Regions from separate parts of the Homo sapiens genome. Here regions 1, 2 and 3 are each reported to be linked to region 4. The links are microRNA targets in miRTarBase. Many come from high-throughput screens and were not tested one by one. Region 4 holds a microRNA gene; each other region holds the end of a gene's coding sequence.
The links. Region 4 holds the annotated microRNA hsa-miR-548a-3p (CAAAACUGGCAAUUACUUUUGC, at 3,954-3,975, shown strand). A microRNA usually pairs through its seed, bases 2 to 8, with sites in the 3' UTR of a target mRNA and lowers its output. Matches are read on the target gene's strand: a 7mer-m8 pairs with bases 2 to 8, a 7mer-A1 pairs with bases 2 to 7 and ends in A, and an 8mer does both.

Region 1: the mRNA of HMGB1 is a reported target of hsa-miR-548a-3p. Seed matches in the 3' UTR shown: 7mer-m8 at 4,742-4,748, 7mer-A1 at 3,022-3,028 and 7mer-m8 at 2,732-2,738.
Region 2: the mRNA of EML6 is a reported target of hsa-miR-548a-3p. Seed matches in the 3' UTR shown: 7mer-A1 at 769-775 and 7mer-A1 at 1,133-1,139.
Region 3: the mRNA of KCNS2 is a reported target of hsa-miR-548a-3p. Seed matches in the 3' UTR shown: 7mer-m8 at 529-535, 7mer-A1 at 890-896 and 8mer at 3,761-3,768.

Annotation. Positions count from the first base shown.
Region 1 is chr13:30,456,596-30,462,051 of GRCh38, forward strand. It overlaps HMGB1 (high mobility group box 1), which reads right to left. Exons shown (of 5, transcript NM_002128.7): 5 at 109-4,938. The coding sequence ends at 4,762. Among named protein-coding and RNA genes, the nearest start is that of HMGB1, 6.6 kb to the right of the region's middle.
Region 2 is chr2:54,969,532-54,975,045 of GRCh38, forward strand. It overlaps EML6 (EMAP like 6), which reads left to right. Exons shown (of 42, transcript NM_001039753.4): 42 at 540-2,494. The coding sequence ends at 564. RTN4 (reticulon 4) reads right to left here. Exons shown (of 9, transcript NM_020532.5): 6 at 5,164-5,233; 7 at 4,290-4,336; 8 at 4,032-4,090; 9 at 2,658-3,667. The coding sequence ends at 3,625. Among named protein-coding and RNA genes, the nearest start is that of RTN4, 78 kb to the right of the region's middle. RefSeq lists a silencer at 4,931-5,132.
Region 3 is chr8:98,429,034-98,434,520 of GRCh38, forward strand. It overlaps KCNS2 (potassium voltage-gated channel modifier subfamily S member 2), which reads left to right. Exons shown (of 2, transcript NM_020697.4): 2 at 1-3,820. The coding sequence ends at 380. It also overlaps a transcript of STK3 not described here. Among named protein-coding and RNA genes, the nearest start is that of KCNS2, 4.8 kb to the left of the region's middle.
Region 4 is chr6:135,235,267-135,240,780 of GRCh38, forward strand. MIR548A2 (microRNA 548a-2) reads left to right here and starts at 3,894; the gene lies at 3,894-3,990. It overlaps LOC105378011 (a long non-coding RNA gene), which reads right to left and starts at 929. Exons shown (of 3, transcript XR_001744368.2): 1 at 754-929.

The DNA of each region.
Region 1 (5,456 bases), not on the chromosome of region 4:
CTTATTCTGGTCAGGTAGCTCTGGACAAATGACAGTATTTCAGTATTTTAATTTCTCGTTTTTAAAAATAGAGTTATACAGCCAAAGAAAAACCAGTAAAAATCTTGATTAATTGCAAAATCATTGTTAAAATGTTTCACAGCATAAATAACAGCTTTTGTGGGCGGGGGGGGGGGGTGGTGGGGTGCAATTTATCAACATCTTCCAAAATGTTAAATGCAAATGTCTTTTGACTCAGCAGTTCTACTTTTGAGGTATCTGAAGACCCACACATGCCTGAGAGAAATGTACAGATGTTCAGCGCAGTACTGTTAAACAGCAAAAAATAGGAAACAATCTAAATGTCCATCAGTAAGGGAATGATGAAAAATATTATGGATCATATACAAGTGAGATCGAAAAAAGAAAAAATATGTATTATGGAGCACCATACTGTGGAATGTCACGTACATGACTGAATTATGTGACTAAAGAGAACAATGAATATGAGTACATAATTTACAAGGATCTCTCTAATCCCTTTTCCACTTATTTTTAAAATGGTATTTAGTATATCTGCAAAATTATTTATTTCTAGTAGACAAGGCCTCACTATGTTGCCCAGGCTAGTGTCAAACTCCTGGCCTCAAGTGATCCTCCCACCTCGGCCTCCCAAAGTGCTGGGATTATAAGTGTGAGCCACTGTGCCTGGCTTTCCACTGACTTTCTATTTCTGGATTCCAGAGTCTGCATACCCTTGCCCACCACTGCTCATGCTCACTTACAGGTTTAGTCATACTATTGCAGATTTTATTCCTACTTCCTTCTTTTCAGTGGATGCCCAATAAATTCAACTATTTAAGCTAAGCACAGTGGTGTGTCCCTGTAATCCCAGCTACTTGAGAAACTGAGGCGGGAGGATTGTTTGAGCAGATTTGGAGACCAACCTGGGCAACATAGAGATTCTATGTAATCTCTCATGTCAAAATAAGTAAAAATTCCACTAATTAGAAGGTCCAAACCAATGCACATGTCTAAAGTCATCTAGCATTTCTTCCTGGTAGAGATTACCTTAGACTGAACCCCCCTGGAAGACGAGCATTACATATTCTGGAGTGTGGCATATTATGTTTGTGTCATTCCATGTTGTATGGTTATCTGTCATGATGTATCGTGAAACAAGCAATTCTATAACAGAGCACTATTTTGCCTCATTACTCTGGGAGCAATGTGGCATAGACCCATGGAATTTCCCAAGTTGTGGCAAGTGTTATTAGCACTGCCTTGGTATTAAGAGGACAAGAAAATGAACCACCATCTTTTGCTGGATAGACAATCAAATCACTTTCTGGCTTTTATCTACTTTTAAAATACATTTCAAGGGTCATTTGAAAATGACACAAAGCACAAATATGAAAAGAAATTCAAATATTATCACACTCCCTAATAAAACAGCCTAATTACCAAAGGCTCACATTTTAGCAAGTTAATTCTAAGACTTAAGCTGTGTACGGTGTGTGCAAATTTGCAGATACCTTACCATCACATGCAAGTGTCTTACTGCTACTGAAAGCTATCAGACCCTTTCAGGAGGCGTGTTGTACCAAGCAGACCTAAATGTGAACTTTCATCAAGGACCTTTTTAGGAGGCGTATTGTACCAAGCAGACCTAAATGTGAACTTTCATCAAGGACTATGTGATGTCAAGCAAGGCAGTACCCATGTATTTCATTCAAAAACCAGTTGTCTCTCCTGTGTTTTTTTTTTTTTTTTGAGATGGAGTCTTGCTCTGTCACCCAGGCTGGAGTGCAGTGGCACAATCTCGGCTCACTGCAACCTCCGCCTCCCGGGTTCACGCCATTCTCCTGCCTCAGCCTCCTGAGTTACTGGGACTACAGGCGCCCAGCACCACGCTTGGCTAATTTTTTGTATTTTTAGTAGAGGCGGGGTTTCACCACGTTAGCCAGGATGGTCTCAATCTCCTGACCTCGTGATCTGCCCGCCTTGGCCTCCCAAAGTGCTGGGATTACAGGCGTGAGCCACTGCGCCCGGCCTCTCCTGTAGTTTTCAACATAGTTAAATCCTACAATGTCTGAGCAATGGTTACAATTCCTTAGGTAGTAAGGGAAATACCTGTTGAATGGCAGTTTGTGTTACATGGGCGCTTTTCTTATCTTTATCATTTAATCATTACCCCTCGGGTACACAGGACACACAAATTTCATTTTTCAGATTTCACTTTAAGAAAATTAATAAATACAGCAAACATTAACAACACTGTGATGGGACGATCATCAGAACTGTGGTAACTAATCAGCAATAGCTCTCAACCTTTGCACAGCAAAGTTAGGAAATTTGACTCGTTAATCAATATGCCATATGCCTATCTTTAAAATACAAAAAAACTAAGATTTATACATCTTAGTTCATTAGTTTTAAAAAGCATCTTCATTTTAAAAGTTGGCCCAATTAATTATAGATTTAGTCTTTTCTTGATGTCAACAAAGTCTTTAAACCCCACAGCACTGTAACTATCTTGGCATTAAAATAGTTTCTATACACTTTCTAAAAAAAATCATCTTCAGTTACAAGGCTTTACACTTATCTAAATTGCCTCCCACTTCCATTTACTTGAGTTTTAGACATCCAACTTCTAGGGGATACTGTTAGAACACCAAACCATACTAATCTTCAGATTGAAGAGGGGTTTTGTCCATTTTCTTAAGATCTGTGGTCAAGAATAAACCCTAAAAAAACTGTTCCCATTCTCAACATCTTAAAAAAATGGTAGTTGTCATGACGTACCTACTAAAGTTACAAATTCTCCTTGAGCCAGAATTCATTTTAAATGGATCAGAATTATTAATGTTGGTGATTAATGGTGATTTCTATACAGTAGAAACTTCCATCTAAATCAGATTGAGTCATTTGCTCCTCTTAACAAAAAATCTGATGTTCGACACAATTGCAGCCTATCACTAACCCTGCTGTTCGCTTGCATGTATCTTGTTTTTAAAAATCTTGTTTAAATCATTCTGAAAGTAAAACTAGTTTTTCCTCCTTTATATATAGCACCGAATACTTGCAATGTTTGACAAAACCTTTTATCAGCCCATTAACCTATTTATAAGCATAAAGTGAGTATTTTTAAAGGGAAAAACTTTGCCATCCCTTATACTTATTTAAAAGGTACTGCTAAGAGGTATTATTAGAAACAAGATTTAAAAATATGTAACAAAATCTTAAGTTCTTAAGTGAAAGCCATTTAACTAGTATTTAAAACCTCTGCAATTATTAGTTTATTAGTATCATCCAGGACTCAGATGTTCAGTATTCCTCCTGAAATTACATAAACAAATGCAAATGGAAAGAATCCAAGTCTAAATTATATAACAAAACAGCACTCCATCACAAAAGCGTGTAAAATTACAAGAACGCTATTTTAAAATACTGGCACTTTAAGAAAACGATAATCTCGAAAACCACAAAATTGCCAAATTGTTCCCTAAACTCCTAAGCAGATAAACATGACTAATGAATGAGTTTGTTTTGTAAAGAAAAATCATTCAAATAAATTGAATAATTCATACTGAGATGCAAAGTTTGTCTTCTTTCTTCCTATCTACTTGGATTTATAAAGGGGCAAACCGTAATATAGGAAAATATACCCTATTTTGAATGTGGCATCTTTGTTTGAAAAGCTGGCCCAATTAATTAAAAATACTTGTAATGGAAAGTCTCGTTTCCTGAGCAGTCCATATTTAGATAAATGGGAAAAGACATCTATAGCCAGCATTTTCATAGTCTTCACTGAGACTAATGTCAACAAAAAATTTAATATGGCAGTCTTGTATTTTAAGCTCACGCTTTTGGGGATACATTCTCAGGTCTTCTTTAATGTGGGAACTGCAAAATATAACTGCCATTACATGGTAATGGGAGTTAAAGAATAGAGTCCTCATGTAAAGGTTAGAACATACTTTTCTATTAGTCCTTCAAGGACAGACTTTCAAAATGTTTGATTCTAATAATCCCATGCTTTGAGTAGATTGATTACTCTTCAGTTTGTAAATGTAAGTGGGCTATGTGAAATTTCTTAACTGATCAAGATTTTGGATGTTCAGTTATGGATGAAAACTATCTCAACTTAACTTTACCCCCATTATGATATGCAGGGTGTGTAGACAAAAGCTTTTTATTAGCTAACTATATGAAAGGATAAACACTGTAATAATTCATGTGATTCAAAATGGGCAAAAGCAAAAGACTAGCTTCCCCTCAAGAAGAAAAATTTCAGACCTATGAAAAGGACAACAATACTAATAAAAAAAATTGTATTTACTTAGAAGCATTCAGAATGTCAACAAAACAGCTGCAACTTTTTTTTTTTTTTTGCAATTACAGAGTGGTATTCAGTTAACAGAACAACAATTATTTCGTATAAGCTGCATCAGAGACAACTGAAGATGAAAAAACTACCATCCCCATATATAACTAATTTGTGCTGTGCACCAACAAGAACCTGCTTTAAATTTCCATGCCAATTTACAACCCCCATACTGTACCAGGCAAGGTTAGTGGCTATTGAAAATACCACCAGGACAGGGCTATCTAAAGACACATTCGGTAGTGTGTTAACTATACAAAAAAAGACACTGTACAGTTTAAAAACAAATCTTACACAGCCTTACATTTCAATTTTTTTCTTTAAAAGGAGTGAGTTGTGTACAGGGGGGTTAAATGCTTTATAGACAAGAAAAAAAAAACTGCGCTAGAACCAACTTATTCATCATCATCATCTTCTTCTTCATCTTCATCTTCTTCATCTTCCTCCTCCTCCTCATCCTCTTCATCTTCCTCATCTTCCTCCTCTTCCTTCTTTTTCTTGCTTTTTTCAGCCTTGACAACTCCCTTTTTTGCTGCATCAGGCTTTCCTTTAGCTCGATATGCAGCAATATCCTTCCAAAGCAAAGGGAGGATAAAACAGTAGGGAAGAAAAAAACATTAAGGAAAGAAATAGAACATGGCAGAACTTTATGAAAGAAATCAAGATTCTAGTTATACCAAAATATCACGTATCTGTAGATCCACAGCAACTCCAGAAATAACTAGAACTTCAATAAATGAACATAAAAATACAAGATCATTATAACAATCTATAACTCATGAAATGGCATAGTCTAATATTTGCAAAGTTATGCCTCATTGAGGTGCAATTATGTACCACATCCTAACTCTATTAAAACCAGAATGTAGAGACTTTGATTAAAGGGTAGACACTGCCACCTTCTGAATGCAAAAAAGCACTCTACAGGTTTACACTGTCAGACCTTAATCCTTAGTAGGAAATGTGGTCTTAAAAAAAAAAGGTAATTTGTCAATAAACATGCAATTAGGTTAAGAAACATCTAGAAATAAACACTTTTCAGAATGACTAAAGCTGAAAATTAAGTATTTAATATTTCAATTTACTGAAC
Region 2 (5,514 bases), not on the chromosome of region 4:
AGTGCTAACACCCCTTCAAAGCAGCACCAACCCAATTGTGAACAAGCTAGGAGTAAAAGACGTAAATGAATTGGTCACCCCAATGCAGGGGATACAGACTTGTTTTAATATAAAAAAGAAGTGGCCTTAACCGTGCAGGGCTTGCAGGCCTTTGTAGGCATGGGAGCATGCTGTGATCCCTGGTTCTGTGCTAAACACTCAAAAGGGCTCTCTGACTCAAGTGGAGGTGATAAACCTTTTCAATAGTAACAGGAGAGAGTGTGATATCAAAGTGCCAGAAGTCCTCACGGACCAACATTTAGCACAGACATTCAAACTGCTGAAAGAACCAAACAGAACTCAACTGAAAAAAACAGACCTTTTAAGAAAAGCAATAGATCTTAATTTGGTGGCAAGATCCCTGGTTTACCTTTTGAAGTCAAAATGTTCAATACATCACCCGAGCTTGACTTTTGAGCACTTGGCAAGATTGTTTTTTGCCACTTGACACAAGTATGATGTCCAGCTATGCAAAATGACTGTTTGATCTGCCTTTTCAGTGTATTTGTGTGGCGATGTCTGTAAAATGCCAGAAGCCTCTTATGTTATTGCTGCTGCTGCTACCAGCCAGCAACTGCAGAGGCCATGCTGAGGTGCCTCCTTGCCACCAGCCGTTGGGAAATGCCTACCATGCTGCCCCGGATGCACAAGCTCAAAACGCTGCAGAAGTTACACAACTGCTCCCATAATCTGGACTCTCCAAAACCGTGATGCCACGAAGGAAGGTCAAGTTTTAAAATGTTAAAGACTGCTTGCCTCTGTTCCTGAGACTAAACAGTATACATACTAACTACATTGACAAAGAAATCCTATCTGATAATGTAGCCCGCTGACGAATTTTGAAGCCTCGGTTACCCTAACCAATATGTAGCTTTTAATTTGCATCAAAACTTTTACAAAGATGTTTTGCTATTGTTTCTATATACTTCAAGAATGTTCATTTTTACAAATAAGTTGAACAAGACAGCCTAAGTTAGATGCACCGAAGTACTAGAAATATCGCTAGCCTCTGTTCTCCAGTTTAGCTTTCAAAACCAAATGAGCCATGTATAAAGGAGTTGAGAAACTTAATTTTTAAATGTTTCATTTGCAGAGTTTTATATCCATTAAGTGCCTTTGAAAGTTTCCAGTTGTGTGGGCTGCTGTCTCACCTCCCACCAATTTCTCCTTTCTCCATATGGTGCTAAAACCTCAAAGCTGAGGAGGGCTGCAGGACCCTTAGCAGATTCAGTGTGTCACCCTTGTCCTGTGTTCACGCCAAGGCTTCCTAAATGAAAGACATCGGTTACCTGCTTATGGGAAGGTGAGCAGCAAAGGAATTGAAGTTCGGGACAGGGTAGAATTATGGGTTTTCATTGTGTTTCATGCCAAACCCACAAAATCCAAAATAGAATTCAAGTTAAACAAACTTCTACTACAAAATGGAAGGGGAAAAAGGCTCAGGAAGGTCTATGAGAATGAGCTGACTTATCTCGTTAAATCTTAAGATAAATGAGGGTAACCCAAGGCTGCACCTTGGTGTACCACCCTGAGTGGAGTTGAGGTGACTTCATTTGATTGCTTCAGGCGAACTATATAGGTCAAGTCCAGATTATAAAAAAATTATCTGCAGAACAAATTGTAAACCCAAGGAATAGCTGGTAAATCAAAATTATAAAGTGAGTTAGAGTTCCTTGGAGTTGGTTGTATGACGGAATATGACTTGGACAATCTTTACCAGAAGCCATCCGTAAGCCCCTCAGTCACACTTTCCATGTAGCTGACCAGTGACTACAGGATGTGGCTGACAGTGCTCACTGAAAGGAGAGTTGGTGCGGGACTGGTGGTTCTGAGCACATAGACGCCTATTAGTCCTTCTGGTCAGTGAACGAAAATTCTAGACCTACAGTTACTGGCTACTTGCATTTGTCAGTTTAGAGAAAAGGTAAAATGAGGCATTTTCAATTGTAGAATAGACTAACATTTACCACAGAAGTGCTTCAGCATTCTAAATGGATTAGATCACTCATTAAGCTATTTTTATATGCCAATTTACTAATGCCTTACATCAATCCACTAATAGGTTGTTGGGCCCGCAGTAGAGTCCCTATGCAGTCCCAATTCTGTTTTCTGTAACCATGTGACTGGTGATGCAGAGTGATAACCATGTCTGCCTATCTTGTACTAGACTCTTCATGCTGATCGGATCTTGCATTGAAATAACCATGTGGAAGAACAATGAATCGATTAATGATGACATGTACAACCATATTTAAAGAGCAATAGTGTCCGTGTGTCATGAAAAACTTATTTGTAAACGTTTATATGGTATGATTTTGATTTTATGTATGTTCATAAATCCTGCACTGTATGATATATGTGAGTTAAAACATTGGTGCATGAATTTATTTTCAAAGTATAAAACACATCACTTAAACATTTTATGTGTCAAATAAAATTTGATTATGTAAACACATTTGTTGACTTTTGTTTCCACAGTAAACAAACAAACAGCTGCACCATCAGCTGAAAAAAACCCTTCTAAAAGCACAAGCTACCATTCGCTGGTTGAAGCAGTTTACCCACTGTGTGCATTTTTAATCTGCTGCAATTTCATGAAATGAAAATACCAAAGCATATTTTAAGTCTATAAGCTTTATTGATACTTTGCTTTTACAGTTCACAATGCATTCCACAGATTTAGTTCAGTACAGCTTAAACCACAATGGTATAAATCTTCATTTTGTAATTAATAATTTCTTGCATAACAATGTTTGATATTTGCAAACAAACAACATTTTTGGAAGCATTAGATTCAGTCCATAGATTCTGTGACAAAATTAACTACAGTCAGTCTGTGCAATGAAATTGATGTTGGAGTTCTATGTGTGTGGCATTTCATGTTGAAAACAGATGGTAGTGCTCCTAGAAATATTTCTTCTTCTAGCTTATGTGCTTTGGAACTACACATGTATAACCAATGACTGACTCTGAAATATCAAGCACTGTGGGGTGGCTGGAAGGTAAAGGTCTAAGCTTTGTGAAACACTATACATATATAATCTATATTTACTTATATTGGCAATTAATATAACAGTAAAAGTCACAATACACCTAGAACATACCAGAAAAGCAAGCTTTGTCATTCCTGCTTTACCGGTATGATCTCGTCTAAACAAACATTTCATTTCAGAAAATCTGCATCAATCTACACGGACCATACACAGTGCACAAACTGAAAAGGGCTTTTTTTTTTTTTTTTCTAGCTCCACCATCTCTGCAACTTGCCAAGATGCGGCAAGACTATCTGCAACAAAGTAAAATATACAGGTTTTTTATTCCACCAGTGCCTCAGATAGATAGGAAAAAGATATGATTACGGTTTAAATCCATACATAGCAGCTTACAATACTTAAGATGATGAACACATGGCAGTCAAGACAGGTAATTTTTCCTCACAACAGTGCATGGCTAAAAATAAAGATCTAACAACGATCTGTGAAACTGCACTGCAACGTCAAGGTTCGTTCTTCCCTGACCCTCCCCCGTATAATCAAATGAATATCCCCTTTAAAGATGAACTCCTACTAATTATTTTGGGCGTTTTCATTCAGCTTTGCGCTTCAATCCAGGGATTTTTGCTTGGATTCTGAAAATGAAAAAGTCAATGTAAATATCAGTTTTGTTTGCTGCTGCTTAAAATACCATCTTCCAAGAACTACTTGTATGTTATTCAGCTAATACAATAAATGAAATCCTTAAAGCTGCCTAATTCTAAGCTATAATTTTGCCACCTTGGCCTCATGAATTAGATTTAAACAAAGCCTTAAACACATAATAAACCCAGAAACGAATGGTCCAAATGTTAGAAAAACAATCTTTTGGCAACTCTGAAGTCACACTTAAGGTCTGATAGAGATTTGTTACTCATTATGCCTGCAATATGAAAATACTGTTCTCACAATCCAGCACACCTTATCCTAGTAAAAACACTGCAGATTTTAAATACTTACTTAGCCATAGCATCTTTAACATTCTTATTTGCAAGTCCTAGATAATGATCTATCTGTGCCTGAAAGAGAGGTATAAAGGAATTATTACCGTTGCTAAAGAATCTTATTAACCACTACTATGTGTCAAGCTAAAGGCTTAAGAAACCATCACACTTCTCATTTTTGTAAGACATTGAAAATGGGCACTAATACATCCGTAAATCCCATGTAATAGAGTGAGTGCTCTATTCTGAAGTCAGCAGTTAGTTAGGAAATTACCTGATGCCGTTCATAAATAACAGGAACACTGAAGAGTGAAATGAGAGCTGAAAAGGGAAATATACAACTTTTCAAAAAGAACGGAATGATTTGGGAGGAATAAACACTCAAAAAACTATTAAACTGGCAACTCAAGATAACCAAGCAGTGTTCCTAATGAATGAATAAAAACATAAGGATCTCTGGATGCATCTGCTGTTGAGGAGCCACTCCAGAGGAATGAATGAACTGTGTGAGGCTGCAGTTATTAGAGCTAGGAACCATTTCTAGCTTCAAATCATATCACAGTGAGATTTCATAAAATAAAGGTATCCCTGGTTAGATTTATGACTGCACCATCATATAAAGCCACCCTTTATCTGGTTTATCACTGTTTGTTAGTAGGAGCTGTCTTCAGCAACTAAGGTAGCATTTCAATAAACCGGGAAGCAGTATCACCAACTTATTTAAAGAGAATACAACCTCAAACTTATTTTGAGATGGAGTTTCACTCTTGTTGCCCAACCTGGAGTGCAATGGCACGATCTCCGCTCACTGCAACCTCTGCCTCTTGGGCTCAAGTGATTCTCCTGCCTCAGCCTCCGGAGTAGCTGGGATTACAGGCGTGCGCCACCACGCCCAGCTAATTTTTTCTATTTTTAGTAGAAATGGGGTTTCACCATGTTAGCCAGGCTGGTCTCGAACTCCTGGCCCCAGGTGATCCGCCCACCTTGGCCTCCCAAAGTGCTGGGATTACAGGCATGAGCTACCGCGCCCGGCCCACATTTTCATCCCCTACTTTTCATACAATGAGAATATTCTCCACTAAAATGTCTAAGCTCCTGGCACACAATCTTTCCAGCAATTTTTCATCCCAATGGCTTTGTAGACTTACCCAAAATCAGTAGTGTCAGACCATTAAACAAGGCACCAACATAGGTAAATACCCACATCAACACTGCAAACTATAAGAAAATAACATTAGCCCATTATAAACAAAATTCAAGTAAAGTTTCTTAATTATGCTTTCAAAAGCATCCCATCTAAATGCCTACCTACAAAAGGCATACAACTTGAAGACTGGGTAAAGTACCATGAGCAGTTCACTATTAAGTCACGAGTCTCAATTATGAATTTCAAAATCCTAAAATAATTAATAGATTTGACCCATTTTCTCTGGACTACACTACCAAGTAGTTGATTCTGCTGAGATCAGACAATATACCAAGGGTGCATCTTACCCCTC
Region 3 (5,487 bases), not on the chromosome of region 4:
AGGAGGAGAACGAGGGCCTGGCCACCATCCCTGCCTGCTGGTGGTGGGCTACCGTCAGTATGACCACAGTGGGGTACGGGGATGTGGTCCCAGGGACCACGGCAGGAAAGCTGACTGCCTCTGCCTGCATCTTGGCAGGCATCCTCGTGGTGGTCCTGCCCATCACCTTGATCTTCAATAAGTTCTCCCACTTTTACCGGCGCCAAAAGCAACTTGAGAGTGCCATGCGCAGCTGTGACTTTGGAGATGGAATGAAGGAGGTCCCTTCGGTCAATTTAAGGGACTATTATGCCCATAAAGTTAAATCCCTTATGGCAAGCCTGACGAACATGAGCAGGAGCTCACCAAGTGAACTCAGTTTAAATGATTCCCTACGTTAGCCGGGAGGACTTGTCACCCTCCACCCCACATTGCTGAGCTGCCTCTTGTGCCTCTGGCACAGCCCAGGCACCTTATGGTTATGGTGTAAGGAGTATGCCCAGCCCCTGAGGGGAGAGATGCATGGGATATGCACCCAGGTTTCTTTTACAGTTTTTAGAATCGTTTTTAGAGGGTGGTGTGTCTGACACCATGCCTTTGCACCTTTCCATGAAATGACACTCACTGGTCTTTGCATCGTGGGCATAAAATGTTCACCTTTTTGCCAGATGAGTACACCCAGAATGCTAATTTTTCTGTCCATCGTGTACGCTATTCTAGTGCTTGTGGCCCAGTACTGTCTATGAGTTGTCGTGCTCCTGTTTCTGAGGTTGTCGTGTGAGTTCTGTACAAAAAGCCCCCACAAGTCGTCCAGTAGAAATGCATCTATGAGGTCAGCAAGGATATGATGAGATTTTGCTCACAGTCATGTGAAAACAAAATCTCAGCTCTTTATCCATTGCTTTCACTTAGTTTTAGTACCAAAACAAAGAGAATGCAAAGTTAAGCAGACTTGACCAATGCAAGTCTCTAAGTTGTTTTTATAAATGATCTGTAGTTCCGTGGCTTGCATGGGTGCACCAATCATCTTTAGAACGATGTACACTGATGTTCATCTCATAAATGTCACTCTTTAGAGAATGTTACTTAGTTAAACATGCAGTGAAGATCGAATTTTTTTCCCAAGAACAGATGTGTTAGGGAGAGGGGCTTCAGCTAAATAGTCCAAACCCTAGGGTGCTTAAAGCCAAGTTAGTGCAGGCTGAGCCCCTTGGTTCACAGTCAAGCCTCCTTGTTTCCTAGGGTGACTGTAGAGAAATGTATTTCCGGATGAGGTTTCTGATCTAGGCCATTTGACCAAACTTTGCTGTGTCTAAGATATTAGCATGTTTTTGAAATATTTATTTTTTAAGATGTTTAGGAGTAAGGTCGTGTTGTCTTCCTCAACTAAAAAGAAGTTTACTGTTGTATCGTCTCCCTGAGGTGAACGTTGTTGGGTTGCTAGCAAGGGCAGTAGCTTAAATACTTTTGTTGCCTACTCTGAAAGCTCATCAAATGAGAGCCCTTTTATTTCCAAGCAGAATTTAGTCAGATAATTTTGCTTCTAGGATATAGTATGTTGTATATGATGCTGTGATTGCCCTGGAGTTCCTGCCATGACATGGAAACCTGGTGGTATGGAAGCATGTACTCAAAATATAGACGTGCACGATGGTGGTGTGGCTTACCCAGGATGGAAACACTGCAGTTCTTACTTGCATTCCCACTGCCTTTCATGGGGGGTGACTGGGTAGAGGCCAGGAGAAAGGAAAGAGTTGTAAAATAAAAAACTGCTAGTTCATAAAATGTCATAAAAAATTGTAAACTTGAAAAGCTTAATGCTATTCAAAAGACCTTCAAGCTTCCAAACTTGTATTGAAGGGAGACGACTGTTTCCTCCTCCAAAATGCTCCTGCTCCTCTTGTTCGGTTAACCAGCACATAACATTGTGATGGGGAACCTGGGTTCCTCTATAAGATAATTCTTCTCCATCATCTTTAAGGTAATCTGATGGTTTTCCAGGTGGCTTTCATTATTGTTCCATCTTTGAAAAGGCAATAGAACCCAGGGGTCTGAGCATGGAGCTATCCAGGGTTTTCATCCAAAGGTTGGGCCTCTTCTTAAGAGGTCCTTTTGTGTTTCAGTTGATTGAAGATGATACTTACCTCATTGGAGGTGTGGCAAGGATCTTATCAGAAGGCTTTGTGTTCTTGTAGTTGTCATGGCTACTACAGTGTGGGTGATTTATTGAATGAATTCACTAGCCACTTGTGTCCTGGAGCCCCCAGTTCAAATCTTTCCATTGGACTGGAGGCTTGTGGGAGGCTGGGAGGTGGCTGTCTCCTAGTGTCTACATCCGTGTCTCTGAAGCATCAGGAAAAGTGAGATGACTTAGAGGCAACTGGGCACTGAATCAGAGGAGCAGAGTTATTTTTCAGAATTTGCACATGGAACACTTAGATTTGGCTGGTGCTTCCAGCCCTGGAAGGCATAACATTTACGGACTCATCCCCAGCTGCACTGAAGGCAGGTGGTGGTACAGACTTATGAGGACGGATCAGTTTGCCAAGGCTGATGGTATTGGGTCACTGAGCCTGGTATCCATGGCCGCTGACCAGGAAGCTTATGCAAAGTGGAAGCAAGGAACAAGGCAGAATAACTCAGTCACTTTCATGAAGATTTTTCTAAACAAGAAGGCTTACCACCAAAAAAGAGGTACCCTAGTGGTTACCCTTTGCAGATGTGAAAGCTGGAAAACTTGACTTTTCTTTTTGGTAATGACTTGCATTTATCTGGTGCCTTTCGTTGGAGGAATCCCAACGTGCTTTAGAGACTATCTTTTTAACATCTCTTGTACATACATATATACTTATATAAAATATTATCTTGCCCAACTGGACCTTTACTCACTTCTGAGCATGAGAATGTCCCAATAGCATTGAGTTTTTCAAGTGGTGGTTTCAGATAAGTGGGAGAAAGAACAACCCGGCTGGCTTAAACCCTGGAGCTAATTCCCACAAGGAATGTAGACTGAATGGTGACCCAGGGAGAAATAATCTTCCTCTCCCCTAAAGTCTCACTAAGGTTTGAAGTTTACAGGTGCTCTCCACTGGGTCTTTGATCGACCTTGCTAGATAACATCTAACCAGCAGTTTCTTTTAGTCCCTGAAGCTAACCAGGGAGAGTCAGGTTAATTTTCTGTAAAAATATGAGGTGACATCTTTGGCAACCAGGCTGTCAGACTGACCTGTAAACCTCCTTTAGGGGGACAGAGTAGAAACTGGAGATGACTTGTTTCCAGCTGTGAGCTTGAGAGAAGTGTCACTCCCAGCATTTGAAGGTTATTGTTTTCAATGCCAGTGGGCCAAATATATGGGCCAGGCTTTGATATCTGTGATGTGCATTTTGGAAGTGCTGGGTTGGGAAGTGACACGTCTGTTGCACAAATGCATATTGGTTATAGGTTTGTGTTTTCTGCCAAACCCCCACATTTCTCGGGTTTGTGAGTGAGGAAGGGCATGTTGTAATGCCAAGCTGATTTGTAGCTCGTAAGGTAGTAATTGGTATTTAACATTTGCATTTGTTATTTCTACTTATCTTAGCACTCAAATAATTGAACTACCTGCTAATTCTTGCCGCATTTCAAAGAAAATAAGTTGTTATGCACTTTGGGATAGTGGTGATCTGTACAGGCTGTGTGTTAGCTACTTGAAGGCGTAACTGGTATTTCTTGTGTGTTTTAACAGCATGACTTCTTACAGAGCTGTAATTTTTAAAATTGAGGATGCCATATTTGAGATGTCAGTTTTAACACTCATTAACACACTACTGTGCAAGCATTGACACAGGCTGCACTGAACCATTATGTCTGATTGCTGCACTTTCATCTCTGTGCCTCGATTCGGGAATGGGCAGTAATACTGACACACTCGGGACTCCAGCCTCAAAAAGTGTGCAGATTAAATAGACAAAAATTATTTGCATCTCTTGGAGGCATTTCAATTACATATGCAGTAGCAAACAAGGAGGGCATTCAAAGTTGGGGACCAGATTTCCTGAGAAAGCCTGGGTGTTTTTTTTGTTTGTTTGTTTGTTTGTTTTTGCAATTTGGGGAAGGAGAAGCTGTTGTTTATTCTTGGTAAAGGCGGAGTCCTAGTTTTCTAGGATCTCGAACCACTAGCCTCCTTGGTAGAAGGAATGGTCCTGTATTCTTGTAACTCTTGTGAAACAGACACCCCTGCAGGATTTTCCTCCTGCATGCTTTCCTGCTCAGCACCTCTGTCAGCCTGCCCTGCCAGCCCCAACCTGTCCCAAAGTACCACTCTCCCTGCTGCCGAAGTAGGCTCCCTAATAGTAAATTGGGGAACCCTGAGTGTCCTGGCTGGTTGGGCATGAATACTGCTGGGGGATACATAGAGACACTTCTTGGCATTACTTAAAATAGACTGAGTATGGGCCGGTCCAAAGGCCATGGTGAATCGGTAGGAAGGCCACTGGGCTGACTTGGTTCTGCTGGGTTTTGCCTCCAGCTCTGTGATTGTAGGCACATCCTGTGGCCTCTCCAAGCCTCACCTTCCACTGCTGCAAAATGAGAAGGTTGGATTAGATAATCCTTAAAGCCCTCCCTACCCACTTCTTCACCTCAATATAAAAACAGAATTTCTGCATGTCTCTCTATGTCCTCATTCTAGCCATGAGCCGATCCTGATATCCCTAATTTATTTTTAAGAAGAGCAGAGAGATTGCTTACAAACAACCTTCTATTTGGTTTCATTTCCTCTTCAGCAGTCAGCTACAATAGACGACAGTTGCAGGGACAATGCAATCAGGAAAATGCTTGAGCTAGGTTCTGATCCAAGTGAATCAAGTTTTAAAATCATCAGCTTGTCTCCTTTGGGATTTCCACTATTTCCACCTATGTACACGGAATCCAGATTCCTCCTATTAACAATCATTAGGCAGAGGAAAATCAATAAGATCCCATTCGACTTCAGGGCTAACTCTTTGCTCATTTTGGTTTGTTGCCTTTGTGAAGGCTAGGAGATCCCCTACCTGTTCCCATGAGGTTATTGGGCCCCAGAAGGGGCCCTGAGGTGTATGGAGCAGATGGCTCTCCCATCCAACACTCAACTCACACTGAGCAGTGGTGGCATCTGCAGGTGGCCTCGTCTGTGTATGCAGCAAAAGGGTGTAGAAATCTGTGTTAACCTTGCCCCGCACTCGTTAAGGCTGAGGAAGGACGCACAGCACTGCTCTCCAACCTCACCACAGTCTTTGCGTTCCATCAAGTGGGGTGTAGCTCAGCTCCTCCCCTTTAGCCACCATCCCTGCAGCAAGGGTATAAATGGATATTCAGGGGGTATTTTAGGGCCAGGATGCCTTACATCTTAAAAGGAAAAACAAACACCTCCCCTTGAGGGAAGAACTTAAATGTTGCATGTACACGGTTATTATCTCCTCCTACTTTTAGGAGAAATTTAAACTAGCATTTCCACCCAAGGCCCTTACATGGCTGTTACATCCGGTCAA
Region 4 (5,514 bases):
TCACTAGTAAATAAACACACACACGCATGCACGCACGCATGCACACACACACGGGGAGGGAGAGAGATTCATTTGATTAATAAAGAATCTGTGGACATTGAATCTATTATTATATGGGATTATATACTCCAAAATGCCCTCCTAGTCCAATATAACTAGCTCCTGTATACATTTCAACAAACATACTTTTAAAAAGAATTTTTAGCCTCGGAAAAATGTAGGCGGAATCTCTAAACCTCCCACCCAAGGAAGACAAAAGAATAAGAGGACAGAGAGGCCTAGCAGACAAAATCCAAGCCATACGCAGCAAGTAACCCCAGAAGCGGAAGCCACCCTGGCAGAACATACTCTTACCATCTCTGGAACATGGAGACCTCCACATTCATCCGGGACCCCCAGAGGGGACTAAAGTGCTTCCAGGTTGGTAGCTGTGGTGCGCAGAATTCTAAAGATGACCCCTTCATGCAGAGTCCTGTGCCTTACTTATGCAAATGCTAAGCTAGGCACAGCTATGAAAGAGTTTTGCAGTTGTCACTAAACTCCCGAGTCAGCCACCCTGCATGAAGATCATACTGGTGGGCCTAGCCCAGCAGGCAAGCCCTTTAAAGCAGAGAATTTTCTCTAGAAAGTAGCAGAAGAGGAAGTCAGAGAAATTCAAAGCGTGAGGGGATTCACGCCTATTACTGGCTTTGAGGATATAGGGGTCCTCATGCAAGGAACAGAGAAGCCCCTAGAGCTGAGAGTCACTCCCACCTGACAGCCAGCAAGGAAGGGGTCCTCCGTCCTCACCAGCCACAGGATCTGAATTCTGTCAACAGCCTGAAGGAGGTCGAAAGCTGATTCTTCTTCTCAAGGACGTCCAGATAAGCGCGCCATCCAGCATCTGCCTCCATTTTGACCCTGTGAGACCCTAAGGACCCAGCCCTCTCCTAGCCTGTGGACCACATCCCTGTGAGCTCATAAAGGAGGGTTGTTTTAAGTGGCTAAGTCTGTGGTAATATGTTATGTAGCAACATGTGTGACTATGAAGTTTAAAGGTATGAATTTTAAAGGGGAAAGGGAATACAAGCCGCCTACTCCTGATAACTGGTTAAAAGGAAAACTGTCACCAGATAAAATCAAGTCTCAGTGAAGGGAAAGAGATCAGGCAGCACTGAAGTTTGACATGTGCCTGTCAAAATGAGAAGATGATAGGATGACCAGAAAGATGCTCACAAACACAGTTATCAAATATCAAGTTCTCCTCCCTTCCTTCCTTCCTACATTCCTTCCTCCCTCCTTCCCTCCCTTCTTCCTTCTTCCTTCCTTTCTTCATTCCTTCCTTTTCTTCTTTCTTTCCTTCATTTTCTTCTTTCTTTCCTTCCTTCTTTCTCCCTCTTTCTTCCTTTCTCTTTCTTTTTCTGTCACAGGATAGAAGATTACATTCATAAAGCTACATGAAAAGCACATATCTCTGCTTTTCATAAAGCAGAAAATACCACAGTCAGATGGAGGTAGATCTTCCTACTTCCCAAAAAGTTTCCCAAAGGGATATATAGCTGTAACTGTACATTCCTACCATCTTAGAGTGAGGATTCTGCCAGGCATGAAAAACTCCTTTGTCCCCTCCTGCCTGATGCTGATGGAAACCCCGCCTTCCTGCCTCTCCTAACACCTTCCTGTTTGCTCTAGATGCAGCGAGATGAAGGCAAATGTCCCGAGAGCACCGTGAGCAGGCTTAGCTTCAGGCTGGTCTGAAACCCAAACCCATAGTTGGTTTTTTTTCGTTTTGTTTCGAGACAGGGTCTTACTCTGTTGCCCAGGCTGGAGTGCAGTGGTACAATCATGGCTCACTGCAGGCTCAAACTCCTGGACTCAAGCAATCCTCCCATCTCAGCCTTTGGAGTAGCTGGGATGATAGGCACGTGCTGCCTCACCCAGCTAATTTTTTTATTTTTTGTAGAGACAGGCTCTCGCTATGTTACCTAGGCTGGTCTCAAACTCCTGCCCTCAAGAGATTCTCCTGCCTCAGCCTCCCAGAGTGCTGGAATTATAGGTATGAGCTGCCATGCTCAGCACCATGAGGGTTTCTTGATGGTTGAAGGGGAGCTTCAGAAGGCTCAGGGAAAACAATGTGAGGTGCATCTGAGAAGTGAACTAGCACTCAGAAATGTGGGGCCGGGTGCAGCAGCTCATGCTTGTAATCCCAGCACTTTGGGAGGCCAAGGCAGGAGGATCGCTTGAGCCCAGGAGTTCCAGGTGGTAGTGAGCTATGATTGTGCCACTGTACTCCAGCCTGGGCAACAAAGCAAGACCCCATCTCTAAAAATGAAAGGAAGAAAAAAAGAAATGTAGGCCCTGAACATGACTCTGTCATTTTGGGCCTGATGGTGTTAAGCCATTTAATCTTTCTGACATAATGTATTGTGTGGGGGGTGGGGTCAGGGTGCTGAAGGGGGCAGGGCAGGGAGAAGACAGGAGCTTTCCCAACTATGCTGAGAGAATTGTTGTTTTTTCACTTGGACACATGAAAAAATGACAAAATTCATAAACTCTAGGGGAATTGTCGGATTTAAGTCATAGTTCTATTGATCTTACAATAGTGTAAATATTTTTTCCCAATCAAAGATGTACTACAGTCACTTCCACGTTGCTCAGTGTGAGATGATAGGCCAGACACAGTGGCTCATGCTTGTAATCCCAGCATTCTGGGAGGCTGAGGTGGGAGGATCGTTTGAGGCCAGGAGGTCATGACCAGCCTGGTAAACATAGTGAGACCCCGTTTCTACAAAAAATAATTAAAAAAAAAAGAATGTGAGATGATAGTCCAATGGTCCAGTGATACATCTTTCCTGCCTCCTACGTTTTCTATTCATGTGAATATTTGCTTTTTTTTTTTTTTTTTTAGATGGAGTTTTGCTCTTGTTCCCCAGGCTGGAGTGCAATGGCGCCATCTCTGCTCACTGCAACCTCCACCTCCCGGGTTCAAGCAATTCCCCTGCCTCAGCCTCCCGAGTAGCTGGGATTACAGGCATGCGCCACCACACCCAACTAAATTTTGTACTTTTAGTAGAGACGGCATTTCACCATGTTGGGCAGGCTGGTCTCAAACTCCTGACCTCAAGTGATCTGCCCACCTCGGCCTCCCAAAGTGCTGGGATTACAGGCGTGAGCCACTGTGCCCGGCCATTTTGGCCATTTGCACAGTTTTGAATATGTACTCTGCTTGCACATACTTTTTTTTTTTAACTTCCTTATTTATTGACTTGATCAGTTGTGATTTCTGTGATGGTGACTGTGTTTACTTGGGGAAAAAACCCAAACAGAAGTCCTGTTTATTGTTTTTCTCAAAAACGTCTAAGAGATTAGCAAGGCAAACTCTGTTGTCAGGAAAAGTCATGGGCAACCCAGAAGTATTTAATGCTTATAAAATTGTAAGTGTATGTAAGATGCTAATATAGTTGAGCTAAACTATAAGGAATGGGACTGTGTACCCCTGCAATTGCATACAAAGTTATGTATAACTGTGCTTTTCTCCACGAAAAGGGTCTTTAGGATTTGAGAACTCTTTAGTCTTGACCCCTTTAGTTACGGTTTTCTTGGATGCAAATGACAGGAACCTAACTTAACTATCTCAGCCACATCTTCAGAAGGTAGGAGTGGGGATAGCCTCAAAGGCAGCTGGAGGCAGAGACTACAATAGCATCAGTGTTGTTTCTGCTTCTTCTGTGGGTCAGCTTCATTCTCTCAAGCCACCAGCAGCTTCAGACTCATATCCTGATAAGCTTGCTACCTCCCAGCTCCAAGTATGAACATCTCAGGGAAAGACACTCCCTTACTGGCCCAGCCTGAGTCCATGCTGCTTGGGTCAGGTTCCCTAGAAGTAGACCCTGCCATGAGGCTGTGTGTGCGCGTGTGATGTGTATTAGGTTTGTGCAAAAGTAATTGGGGTTTTTTGCCGTTAAAAGTAATGGCAAAACTGGCAATTACTTTTGCACCAAACTAATATAATGAAAGTGCTCTAAGAGAAAGGAAATGGGAGGTAGGGGGCTCGGGGGAAGTACAGGGAACAGGACAGGGAATGGGGAAGAAGCCAAGCAAGGGTATGATTTCAGGAAAATTCCAGACTTAGCTTTATCCTGCAAGGTCACTGTAGTGTATAAATGATGCTCTGAGTTATCCAGACACCAGACAAGTTTCCTGGGCTTTAAACTCCCAAAGCAGTCAGGCATTGGCCAAAGGCCACCCCAGGGAGCATGAATTTCAAGTGCTTCTGACTCTTTGCACTTGCCTGCAGGCAACGCATAAAGGCAAAGCATCTTCAGTAGCCTAGGCTAGACCTCAGAAAAGAGTCACAGATGTGAGCTCTTAGACAAAAAGCACATAGAGCCAAGAGCACAGGCATGCAGAAATGGGTACGCCAGTGGAGTGGCACAAAGAACCAAGAGTGTCTGTTACACGAGGCTTTTTCAAGTGCCTTGGAATTCCATGTATCCTCTGTTGATTCAAGGTCTCTCTTCTTGAACAGCGATGTGGCCAAGAATGTGGGGTGACATAAATGATGGCTGCTACCATTGGCTCTCATGGCTAAAACTAGGAGAAGAAGTTCCTCCAAAGGAATGTGATAGACAGGTAAAATATAATTGTCTACTAAAAATACTTCTAAAAGATTAAGAACATGAAAGCACTTTCAAACTGGAATTCTGCAGATAACATTGAAGTTTCAAGGAGTCTTGGTCTTGAGATCTAACATTGGAATACAGTATTATAATGGATGCAACATTCAGTTCTTTATGACACTTGTTCTTTTAAATATTTACTCATGGAGATGTCATTTGTAAAAAGAGTTTCTAATAGAAATAAAAAGCACTGGAGAATTTCAAAAACCATTCATAAATAAAATGTGTTTGGACTCATAGCAGCGTTTGAGTAAAGACAGATCTATGGGGAACTTATCTGGCTGTTCTCTGCTATCTTGATCTCGACTGAAGAAAATGGAATATACCTGAAATTTTTTGTTGAAAATATTTTAGTCTTAGAAAACAGTGTTTCACGTTAAGAGAGCATCATGTCTTCTTTATTTTTTTAAAAAAGCAATTTTGAAGTTGGAAAATTATTAAAGGTATATATTATGATTTACAGCTGATTCCAAGAGTACACATTTTGAAACAAAATATTACAGAATATTATAAAGCAAATGTTTCTTCAACCTATTAAAAAATACAGAATGAGGCAGCTGCAAGGAAAGAGGCATTCTCAATTTGCTGGAGATTTTTACAGAATTCATTAAACACTGAGATCACATTGAAGACTGGAGAAAGCTCAGAGATGCTTGGATTTCATTCATGAGGACAGTTTACAATGGATCAGAAAAGCTTATTTCCAGTTTACAAAAATGATAGCCAGGCACAGGACAATACTGCTAAGATGAAGGGAAAGTCAATGGAGTTGTAGAAAAGTTCCAGGAGGAAGAACCAAGGGTTTGCTTATGCACCAATGGCCACGTAGCACCTGTTTTCTGGTCTATTCTTGCTC